3 linked regions of the Homo sapiens genome follow. The protein of the gene in region 1 interacts with the protein of each later gene in a pairwise test. Each region holds a gene or a part of one and is shown on either strand. Other genes may lie near its edges.

What was found.
Region 2: the proteins of KDR (region 1) and STYX interact in a two-hybrid assay, tested with the Homo sapiens proteins (one study listed by BioGRID and IntAct).
Region 3: the proteins of KDR (region 1) and ILKAP interact in a two-hybrid assay, tested with the Homo sapiens proteins (one study listed by BioGRID and IntAct).

What each region holds. Positions count from the first base shown.
Region 1 is NC_000004.12:55,101,596-55,105,095, reverse strand, and holds part of KDR (vascular endothelial growth factor receptor 2 precursor), read left to right. Parts: intron 1-111; coding exon 112-453; intron 454-2,587; coding exon 2,588-2,734; intron 2,735-3,067; coding exon 3,068-3,199; intron 3,200-3,500. UniProt on the Homo sapiens protein: Tyrosine-protein kinase that acts as a cell-surface receptor for VEGFA, VEGFC and VEGFD. Plays an essential role in the regulation of angiogenesis, vascular development, vascular permeability, and embryonic hematopoiesis.
Region 2 is NC_000014.9:52,757,666-52,761,165, forward strand, and holds part of STYX (serine/threonine/tyrosine-interacting protein), read left to right. Parts: intron 1-77; coding exon 78-117; intron 118-208; coding exon 209-259; intron 260-2,016; coding exon 2,017-2,089; intron 2,090-3,500. UniProt on the Homo sapiens protein: Catalytically inactive phosphatase. Acts as a nuclear anchor for MAPK1/MAPK3 (ERK1/ERK2). Modulates cell-fate decisions and cell migration by spatiotemporal regulation of MAPK1/MAPK3 (ERK1/ERK2).
Region 3 is NC_000002.12:238,183,196-238,186,695, forward strand, and holds part of ILKAP (integrin-linked kinase-associated serine/threonine phosphatase 2C), read right to left. Parts: intron 2,093-3,500; coding exon 1,986-2,092; intron 919-1,985; coding exon 825-918; intron 546-824; coding exon 458-545; intron 1-457. UniProt on the Homo sapiens protein: Protein phosphatase that may play a role in regulation of cell cycle progression via dephosphorylation of its substrates whose appropriate phosphorylation states might be crucial for cell proliferation.

The sequences.
Region 1 (3,500 bases):
GGATAGAGCTTCATTTCTTTTGGTACTTTGTAGTAGTCTGAAAGCAGCAAGATGATAGTGAGCTGTACCAAGTTAAATCACCATTCAATAACTATGGCCTCTTCATTTTAGGGGGTCCTGAAATTACTTTGCAACCTGACATGCAGCCCACTGAGCAGGAGAGCGTGTCTTTGTGGTGCACTGCAGACAGATCTACGTTTGAGAACCTCACATGGTACAAGCTTGGCCCACAGCCTCTGCCAATCCATGTGGGAGAGTTGCCCACACCTGTTTGCAAGAACTTGGATACTCTTTGGAAATTGAATGCCACCATGTTCTCTAATAGCACAAATGACATTTTGATCATGGAGCTTAAGAATGCATCCTTGCAGGACCAAGGAGACTATGTCTGCCTTGCTCAAGACAGGAAGACCAAGAAAAGACATTGCGTGGTCAGGCAGCTCACAGTCCTAGGTAGGGAGACAATTCTGGATCATTGTGCAGAGGCAGTTGGAATGCCTTAAATGTAGTGCAATTCAGGTGCTATGCAAAGATTACTGTCCTCTAGGAGATTATGTTGTAAACTGGTGCACACTTCTTCACCGAAAGTCCTTGAGGAAGAAAGAAGCTAATAATAATGAAATGATATATCGAAAGGAGAAAATAACAAAACCTGATGATGGAGTAATTCACTAGTATATGCAAGGGATATTAGCTTGAACCAGGGAAACTTCTGCCTTATCTTGGGCATCCATTTATTTAAATAGACAAATATTTGTGGAATGCCTGCTATGAGCTAGGAGAGTGTCAGAAATTCACAGTGGTAAACATGAAGGAAAGGAGGAGAACATAGGCAACCACTGGGAAGTCACAGCACAGTGAGGTCTCTGTGTCCATGAGAACAGGAATTGTTCTCTGTTTTGCTCCCTGCTATAGCTCTAGTCATAGAGCATAGCAGCATATACTAACTGCTCAATAAGGCACCTGCTGCATGAAGAGTGGGATGATGGGCTGCGTTTAAGACCTAGAAGACTCCATGGGAAGGAAGCTACATTCACTGTCTGTACCTCTGGGTCATCCCACATGATCCAGCGTAGCCCAAGGTCAATGGGACGATCACTTCAGTGAGCAGATAGCTCTGTAAATTCCTCCATAGAGGCACTGTCTACCCCTTGTCTAACCTCATGCCTTGTGCAAAAGCTGGGCAGCCATGGCTTTGTCTGTGGGAAAATCAGGCAAATTTGGGGAGCGTCTCTTTGTGCCACTTCTCTCCATTTTCTCCTCTTGTGGTGTCCCTTTCCAATTCCTAGGATATATGTGCCCTCTGTTTTTTTTTTACTGTTAGGAAGGAAATTGCCCAAGTAAATTCATCTATACCACAGTTTTAGAGGGTAACGTCTTCATCAGAGGCCTTGGCGTATTTGAAGAGGCACCTTCTGACAGACACTAGCATAAAGTTCGCTAGTTTTAAGACTCAGGTGTCATAATAAGAGATACTTTGGGGTCAAGTCATCCCCAGCATCCTTCAAGTCACACCACATAGATCACATGGATTTTCTGTTGGCTTGTCTGGCTTCAAGGTTATGGCAGAATTGAGAAAGAGATGTGAAGTAGGCTCCTGGCCTAGCTGTGCCCAGAAAATATGTGCTCGCAGTTAGCTGCTTTGCTTCCCTAAGGACTCCTAACTTGTTTTCCTAAAACCTATTCTTAGAAATAGGCTAGAATCCAGTACATTTGCTTAGACTTCAATGTAGTACGCTGTTGAGGTAATCTCATTTTGCTAAGTGTTGACGTGGATTTTTTCAGCATGATTCCTTTTGATGTTCAGTTGGTTGGGACAAGATATTTCCACAGCACTTTGATGATCTGAAGAAAGAATAAATCTAAAGTGTTCTTGTACACTTAAACAAATACTCATGGGCTTCATTTTCTTTAAATCCAAGACTTCCCTTAGGGTATTGTTGTTTTGTTTGTGTTTTAGTGGAAATAGCACTGAACTGGTCTTTTAGCCTCACCAGATTCTGTAAACAGTTCAACTGTTTACTTAGTTGCAGGGACATGGACAAGTGGTTTAATGTCGCTGAACATCATTTATTTCATCTGTGAGATAACGCTAACAGTCCTATTCTGCTCATTACATAAGATCACTAGTGAGGAACACAAATTGTGTAAACAAGTTTTATAAGAATTGCCAAATAAATGTAAGGCATTATTGGTTGAATGATACTAAAATTTGGCACTTCCAAGAGAAATTTGAAGGGATTCTAGGGTATTATTGACTAGAATCTTCATGGGAGGGAAGTTTTCACCTGGGGAGGCTGTGTCTAATTAGAGGAAAAATCCATAAAGGTGACCCTGAACCTTTCTTTTGTGATGGGATTACCAGCTAGTATCACTAATATGAATGTTAAAAGCCATTAATCTGTTTGCAGTGTCCTGACTGACTTGTTTCATTTAACTTTACCCAGTGACCAGTGTATTTTCCCAGAAGTTAATATATCAACAAGTTCCTTTTTACTAAATTTAAACTGTTTAAAAGTTTGCTGATACCAGAACCATTTCAAAAGTTATAATTCCATGTTCTGTGATTTTCTTTTTGTGTGTCTAGAGCGTGTGGCACCCACGATCACAGGAAACCTGGAGAATCAGACGACAAGTATTGGGGAAAGCATCGAAGTCTCATGCACGGCATCTGGGAATCCCCCTCCACAGATCATGTGGTTTAAAGATAATGAGACCCTTGTAGAAGACTCAGGTAAATAGAATTTGGCTATCACTCTTGGGTTGCAGAACTTTCCCAGGGATGTTATCTAAAAAGCCATATTATTTCTTGATGTAATGTAGAAAAAAAGCAGTATTGGTGTCCATGACCTGGCTCATTTCACAGACTTAGAATTGGAGTATGGGGCCCTGTTGAATTTTCATGAAAGCCATATAGGAGATTAGTCAGCAGTAGATCCCATGTGACTCTACAGAGTTAGATAATAGAACAAGATGAAGGGCAGCATTTATATTTTCTAAATTTCCCTGAAAAACTTCACAGACTACATCATCATAAATGAGAATGATCGTTTTCTTCCTCTGTTAGGCATTGTATTGAAGGATGGGAACCGGAACCTCACTATCCGCAGAGTGAGGAAGGAGGACGAAGGCCTCTACACCTGCCAGGCATGCAGTGTTCTTGGCTGTGCAAAAGTGGAGGCATTTTTCATAATAGAAGGTCAGTGGGATAAAAAAAAATGTGGTACATATACACCATGGAATGCTATGCAGCCGTAAAAAGGAATCTGATCATGTCCTTTGCAGCTGCATGGATGGAGCTGGAAGCCATTATCCTCAGCAAACTAACACAGGAACAGAAAACCAAACGCCACACATTCTCACTTATAAGTGGGAGCTGAACAATGTGAACACATAGACACAGGGAAGGGAACAACACACACTGGGGCCTACTGTGGGTTGGGGAGAAGGAGAGCATCAGGAAAAATAGCTAATGCATGCTGGGCTTAATACCTAGGAGA
Region 2 (3,500 bases), on another chromosome or scaffold:
CTTTACTGTGGTTTCAATGTAGTTCAGCTACTGACTCAGGTGTTTTTCTATTAGAATAATGAATTCATGTTTTTCAGGAAAAGTTCTTGTGCATGGAAATGCAGGGATCTCCAGAAGGTATGAAGTTAGAAATAATCTTTCTTTCTATAACATTTAATTAATGGGCTGTATTTTCTGGTTGTTTTTAAAATTATTTTCCCCTCTTCAGTGCAGCCTTTGTTATTGCATACATTATGGAAACATTTGGAATGAAGTACAGGTAAGAAAATACCCTAAAACCTAGCCACAGTTTAAATTCTCATTAAAATGAAACTTAATGGGAATAGTTTGGAAGTTTGAAGTTCTTATTCCCCTGATTATTTTTCATGTAGTCATGTTTGATTAGGCAGGCCCTTATTCCATGATTAGTCTTAACCTAATTTATCTACTTGTATAGATATGCATAGGCTAATATGGAAATCCTATGGAAAACTACTTACCTACCACAAGGGAATTGGTTGGTATGAGTATAAAAACTCGTGACCACAAATGTTAGTGCTTGCCTTATTTAAAGGGCTAATTTATCATGTTCTCCTTTAACAATAGTTGGATGAAAAATTACCTAGGAATTGTTTGCAGCATCTATTTACAATTCAGAGTAGTCTTTCTTATCAAAAATCATCTTTTCCAAGCATTCTGTATAGATTTTTTAAAAGATAGGGGGTGGTAATGAGCTTCTTGCCCCAAGACAAAGCAAAAGCCTGGCCAGTGTACAGTATTTCCTTTCTCAGCTTTTCTTGTTCTACAAATTAGAAATCTTATAGTAATCATTGACACATCTTTCTATTTCAGTCCCCTTTTATATCTAAATTAGAATGGATAACTTTGCTTAAAAATATCTATTCTTAAAGGAATATTATTTGAATACAAATATTTATTTATTTATTTTTGAGACGGCGTCTTGCTCTATTGGCAGGCTGGAGTGCAGTGGTGCGATCTCAGCTCACTGCAACCCCCGCCTCCCAGATTCAAGCAATTCTCCTGCCTCAGCCTCCCTAGTAGCTGAGACTACAGGTGCACACCACCACGCCTGGCTAATTTTTGTATTTTTATTAGAGATGGGGTTTCACCATGTTGGCCAGGATGGTCTCGATTTCTTGACCTTGTGATCCACCTGCCTCGGCCTCCCAAGGTGCTGGTATTACAGGGGTGAGCCACTGCACCCAGCCAGAATACAAATATTTAATTGAAAAAAGATTAAACATGTATTGATGGACTTTATGTTTTATATATTGTTTTTATTATTTCGAATTTTGTCAGACCATTAATGTTGGAAATAACTTGTATTTATTGGGTCTCTGCTATGAGCTCAGTACTATTATAGGCACTTTAAGCCTCATAACAAAAGTAAATAAACCTCTTTAACCAGTGATAGTATTTTGAGCTTGAACTTGTACTATATGCACAAAATGCTTACATTTTATATATTTATTTTAGAGACAGGGTCTTCCTTTGTTTCTCAGGCTGGAGTGTAGTGGCACAATCATAGCTCACTGTAGTCTCAGACTTGAGGACTCAAGTAATCCTCCCACCTCAGCCTCTCAAGAAGCTGGGACTATACCACATCACTGTGCCTGGCTAATTTTTAAGTTTTTTGTAGAGATGGGGTCTTACTACATTGCCCAGGCTGGTCTCAAAGTCCTGGCTTCAAGCAGTCCTCCTGTGTTGGCCTCTCAAAGGATTGGGGTTACAGGCAAGAGCCACTGCACCTGGCCACTTTACACTTACCTCCTATTCATAGTAGTTCCCCAAGGTAGGTGTTATTAGACTCTTCATTTTACCAATGGACAAAATAGAGCTTAGAGAAGTTGAGCAAGCTGCCGTAAGCATATAGCTGGTGAGAAAAGGAATTGTGATATTTAATCTCATCATGCTTTTTCCATTACAACTCATTACCCCTCTCTATTGCTAAGTTGTATGATTATGATTAATTCATTAAATAATGCTATCACATTAACACTCTTTTTCTGTTTTCAGAGATGCTTTTGCTTATGTTCAAGAAAGAAGATTTTGTATTAATCCTAATGCTGGATTTGTCCATCAACTTCAGGTAACTTTTCTTCCTCTTTAAGGCAATCAGAAGTAAGATATAAAATCTTTTATACATGTAATTTAGGTGTACAATTTACTTTGTGAATACTTAAAATTGCCATAATCTGACTACTTTGATGCTTTATTCAAGTTTATATCTCTATTTAGAAGTATTTTCTTGGCTGGGTGTGGTGGCTTATACCTATAATCACAGCACTTTGGGAGAACAAGGCATTTGGATTGCTTGAGGCCAGAAGTATGAGATCAGCCTGAGCAACAAAGTGAGACCCAATCTCTAAAAAATAAAAAATTAAAAAAAAATTAGCCAGTCATGGTGGTGCATGGCTGTGGTCCCAGCTACTCAGGAGGCTGAGATGGGAGGATTGCTTGAGCCCAGGAGTTTGAGGCTACAGTGAACAGTGTGCCTTTGCACTCCAGCCTGGCCCACAGAGTGAGACCCCATCCCTAAAAAATTAAAAAAACTTTTTTTTCTTAAAGGCTGGCATTACCAAGAAAAAAGGGTTAAAGACACATTATCAAATCTAAAGTAAAATAATTGCTGTTAGAAATGTCTGATTTTTTTTTGTTGTTCATTTTGATCACACAGAGCATAAGACAGTTTTGATTCTAAGTATACTAACTATAACAGCTTTTTCTATTCTATGTTTATCTTTTCCATGTTGTTTCATATTTTGTTGATGCCTGGCAGATGCACTGACAAAGATGATAAGTCTATGAATTAACCTAATTAGACCACGTTGCTCAGTTTATTCCAAGAGGCAAAATCATAGGCTGCAGAATGTGCTCTGGCTAATTACATCCAATTATGTAGGAATAAAGCTCATGTTTCAACATCAAGAATATTTATTACAAAATATATTGTTATAGTTACCAAGGTTTAAATTTTATTTTAATATTTAATTTACTTTTAATTTTTACTACATTCAAAAGAGAAACAGTGTCATCTGTGTTCAGCCTGTTCATGTAAAATGTTTGTCTTCTAACTTTGTAAGTTTCTTTGCCTTTTACCATGTTGTAGAAAACATTGTTTTTTTTCATTTTTTTTAAACTATTTTTTAAGCTTTTCTTTTTTTTGTGGATACATAGTAGGTTAGGTATTTCGATACAGGCATGCAATGTGTAATAATCACATCATGGAAAAATAGAGTATCCATCCCCTCAATCATTTATCCTTTGTGTTACAAACAATCCAATAATGCTCTTACTTGTTTTCAAATGTGTAAAAACATTCTTTTTTAAAATTAATTTTTGTATTTGAAAGAATAGTATATACATATGTTTAAGAAGATTGGCCTGGCTCAGTGGCTCACACCTGTAATCCCAGCACTTAGGGAGGCCGAGGTGAGTGGAACACCTGAGGTCAGGAGTTCGAGACCAGCCTGGCCAACATGGGGAAACCCCATCTCTAC
Region 3 (3,500 bases), on another chromosome or scaffold:
TGGCACCTCATCTGGTATTTTCTAGCTACAGCTCTCAAGTTACTCTGAAATCACAGTAACTTTGATAGGCAGGGGTTAAAGCTTTTCATTCATTACTGTCTAAGGTCAGAGAAAGGAAATAAAAGAAGATTTAGGCTACTTGCATACTGATTACATTCTGATCCACAGCATCACACACACAAACCACGGGAGGAAAAAAGAAACAAAAAAGACGGGATCTGGGTTTTAAAGCACAAGTCTATCATAGGGCGTAAGTTCCCCAGAGAACAAACAGCCTCTAGCTGAGTTGCTGTTCCCTTACCCAGAAGTTAAACTGCAGCAGAACACTCTGCAGCAACCCCAGAAGAAAGGTTTCAACCAGACACCATCACTTTAATCTTATTCAACAAGTACGTGCTAAAGTCTTTTCCCCATAAAACGTATTGTCATCTAAGTGGGTGGCTCCAGAGCCACATACCCGACTATCTCCGAGGTTGGCAATATAAAGAATGTTGTCTACAGCCAGAACACACGTGGCAGTGGACCCATCTTTCCAGGCAGGCTTCCTGGGGGGAAACACATCAGAAACACAGTCACCACCAATAGCCCAGCACTTTGAGACTAATTTCCAGAGCTCAATGGGAAGTATCTTATATTTCAAAATGAACCATTTCCTTGATACTTGCTTTTTTTCTGTTTTAGATTTAGCTAACGGTTATAAAAGCTGAGTGCTACGCACTTTTCAGACAGTGAGCAATAGTGTTAAACCACATCAGAAGACTGAAATGCATTTAGGAAAACACCACACACAGTCCACTCAAACTTCATCATCAAGTTATACTTACTGGCTGGAAGCTTGTTTAAGGAACTCTTCATCAGTATGCTTGAAAGTGTCCAAAAGGCATCTCTTCACGGTTTTCTCTACACTGATTACATCTCCTATTACAGAAGGGCCAAAAGAAAACAATCTCTCAAGGAGGGAAGATTATCCTCCTCCCACTGTCATTTTGGTTTGTTTTTTGTTTTATTTTTTTGAGACGGAGTCTCGTTCTGTCACCAGGCTGGAATGCAGTGGCGCGATCTCAGCTCACTGCAACCTCCGCCTCCCAGGTTCAAGAGATTCTTCTGCCTTAGCCTCCTGAGTAGCTGGGAATACAGGCGCGCGCAACCATGCCAGGCTAATTTTTGTGTTTTTAGTAGAGACAGGGTTTCACCACATTGGCCAGGCTGGTCTCGAACTCCTGACCTCGTGATCCACCTGCCTCGGCCTCCCAAATGCTGGGATTACAGGCGTGGGTCACCAGGGCTGGCCATTTTGTTTTTGTAATTTCTGCACATCAATTGATTTTCAAGCATGATTAAGAACAATCCCTATTTCTTTCCTTTTTTAAATTTTTTTTTCTGAGACTGGGTCTCACTCTGTCACCCAGGCTGCAGTGCAATGGTGCAACTGTGGTTCACTGCAGCCTGAACCTCCTGGGGCTCAGAAAATCCTCCCACCACAGCCTCCTGAGCAGCTGGGACCACAGGCACATACCACCATGTCCAGTTAGGTTTGTTTTTTTTTTTTATAGAGATAGAGTCTCCCTATGTTGCCAGGCTGGTCTCAAACTCCTGGGCTTGAGTGATCTTCTGGCCTTGGCCTCCCAAAGTGCTGTGTGAGCCACCGTGCCCAGCCAGAACAATCTCTGTTTCTTTCCTCACATATAACACAGTGCTATTTGAAGTTGGTTTACTAGTTTTCCAGTAAAGGCAAGACACTAACTGAACCCAAAGACGATTGACAAAAGGTGCCTATCACTTAGAATCATGAGAAGTGCCATTCTAAGTCACACCTGCATGGCCGCTACTCCTGGAAGCCTTGGCATCCACTCCTCAGCACCACTCTTTTAAGACTCATCAATGATTCTCTGCTAAAGCCAAAATAACACATCTGACTGCTTCACACAGCCAACCAAACAGCAATAACCAATTTGAGTATCAACTGATTTAGTTCTCAGTCTCACCTTTAGGAAATTTTCTGATTAAGTTTTGATGCAAATTCTGTGCAGCAAATTTTGAGGCTCGAATTCCTCCATGTCCATCAAAAACAGCAAAATATGAAACCCGAGTACTGAAAGAACGAATTGAGAGTTAATCAAATTCTCACAGCAAAAACCACACTTTTCCATTAAAGCTTTTAAATTTCGTCTCAAAGAGTGAACATTAATAAGTCAGAGGAAGTCACACTGGTTAAGACACCAGTCACACTGTTACAAATGGGAAAAAAAAGGCTTTAACTGAGACAAATATTTAAGTAACTTTCACAGCATTTTATCTTTTTTTAAAAAAAAAATACTTGTGTGTGGGCCAGGTGTGGTGGCTCATGCCTGTAATCCCAGCGCTTTGGGAGGCCGAGGCAGGCGGATCACGAGATCAGGAGATCAAGACCATCCTGGCTAACACGGTGAAACCCCATCTCTACTAACAATACAAAAAAATTAGCCGGGCGTGGTGGCAGGCACCTACAGTCCCAGCTACTCGGGAGGCTGAGGCAGGAGAATGGCGTGAACCCAGGAGGCGGAGCTTGCAGTGAACTGAGATCGCACCACTGCACTTCAGCCGGGGTGACAGAGCGAGATTCTGTCTAAAAAAAAAAAAAACAAAAACACTGTGTGTGTGTAGGTGTGGGAGTGTTTCTGGTGAAGACTGCAAGACCTGCTAAAGGTCTAATATTCTAAAAGAGATGTAACACTTTTCCCAGTATTTTACATTAAATGTTTAAAACTCACATTTGCTTCAAAGATCAAGATCTGTTAATTCTGATTTTTCACTGACAACAAAACTAAAATTCAGAACTCCGTTCCTATTTAAATCGGATTTGGTTTTAAACATTAACAAACAGATCAAGTTATTTATCGAAAACAGTAAAAAATACAGTCATGCATCACTTAACAGAAATGCATTGTTAGGTGACTTTGTTGTGTGAACATCATAGAACATATTTACAGAAACTAACACGGCGCAGCTTACTACACACCTAAGCTACATACATGGTAGAGCCTATTGCTCCTAGGCTAAACTGCACAGCATGTTACTGCACTAAATACCATAGGCAGTTGTAACACACTGGTAGTATTTGTGTATTTAAACATACCTAAACATAGAAAAGGTACAGTAAACATGGTATTATGGCTGAACACGACAGCTCACGCCTGTTAATCCCAACACTTCGGGAGGTGGCCAAGGCAGGAGGATCACTTGAGGCCAGGAGTTCAAGACCAGCCTGGGCAACATAGCGAGACCCCCATCTCTACAAAATTTGTAATCTTATGGGAGCACCGTCATATATGCAGTCCATCACTGACTTGATGTTGTTATTCAGCACATGACTGCATAAGAGCAGGGAGGATATTACAGAATTGTTACTCAAATAAATTTTAAATATCTCATTTTTAAAACCTATCTTACTACTCTTATTCCCATTCCCCTTTCAAATTTTGCCAGAAAACCCACATATATGGAATAAAAGACATCAAATA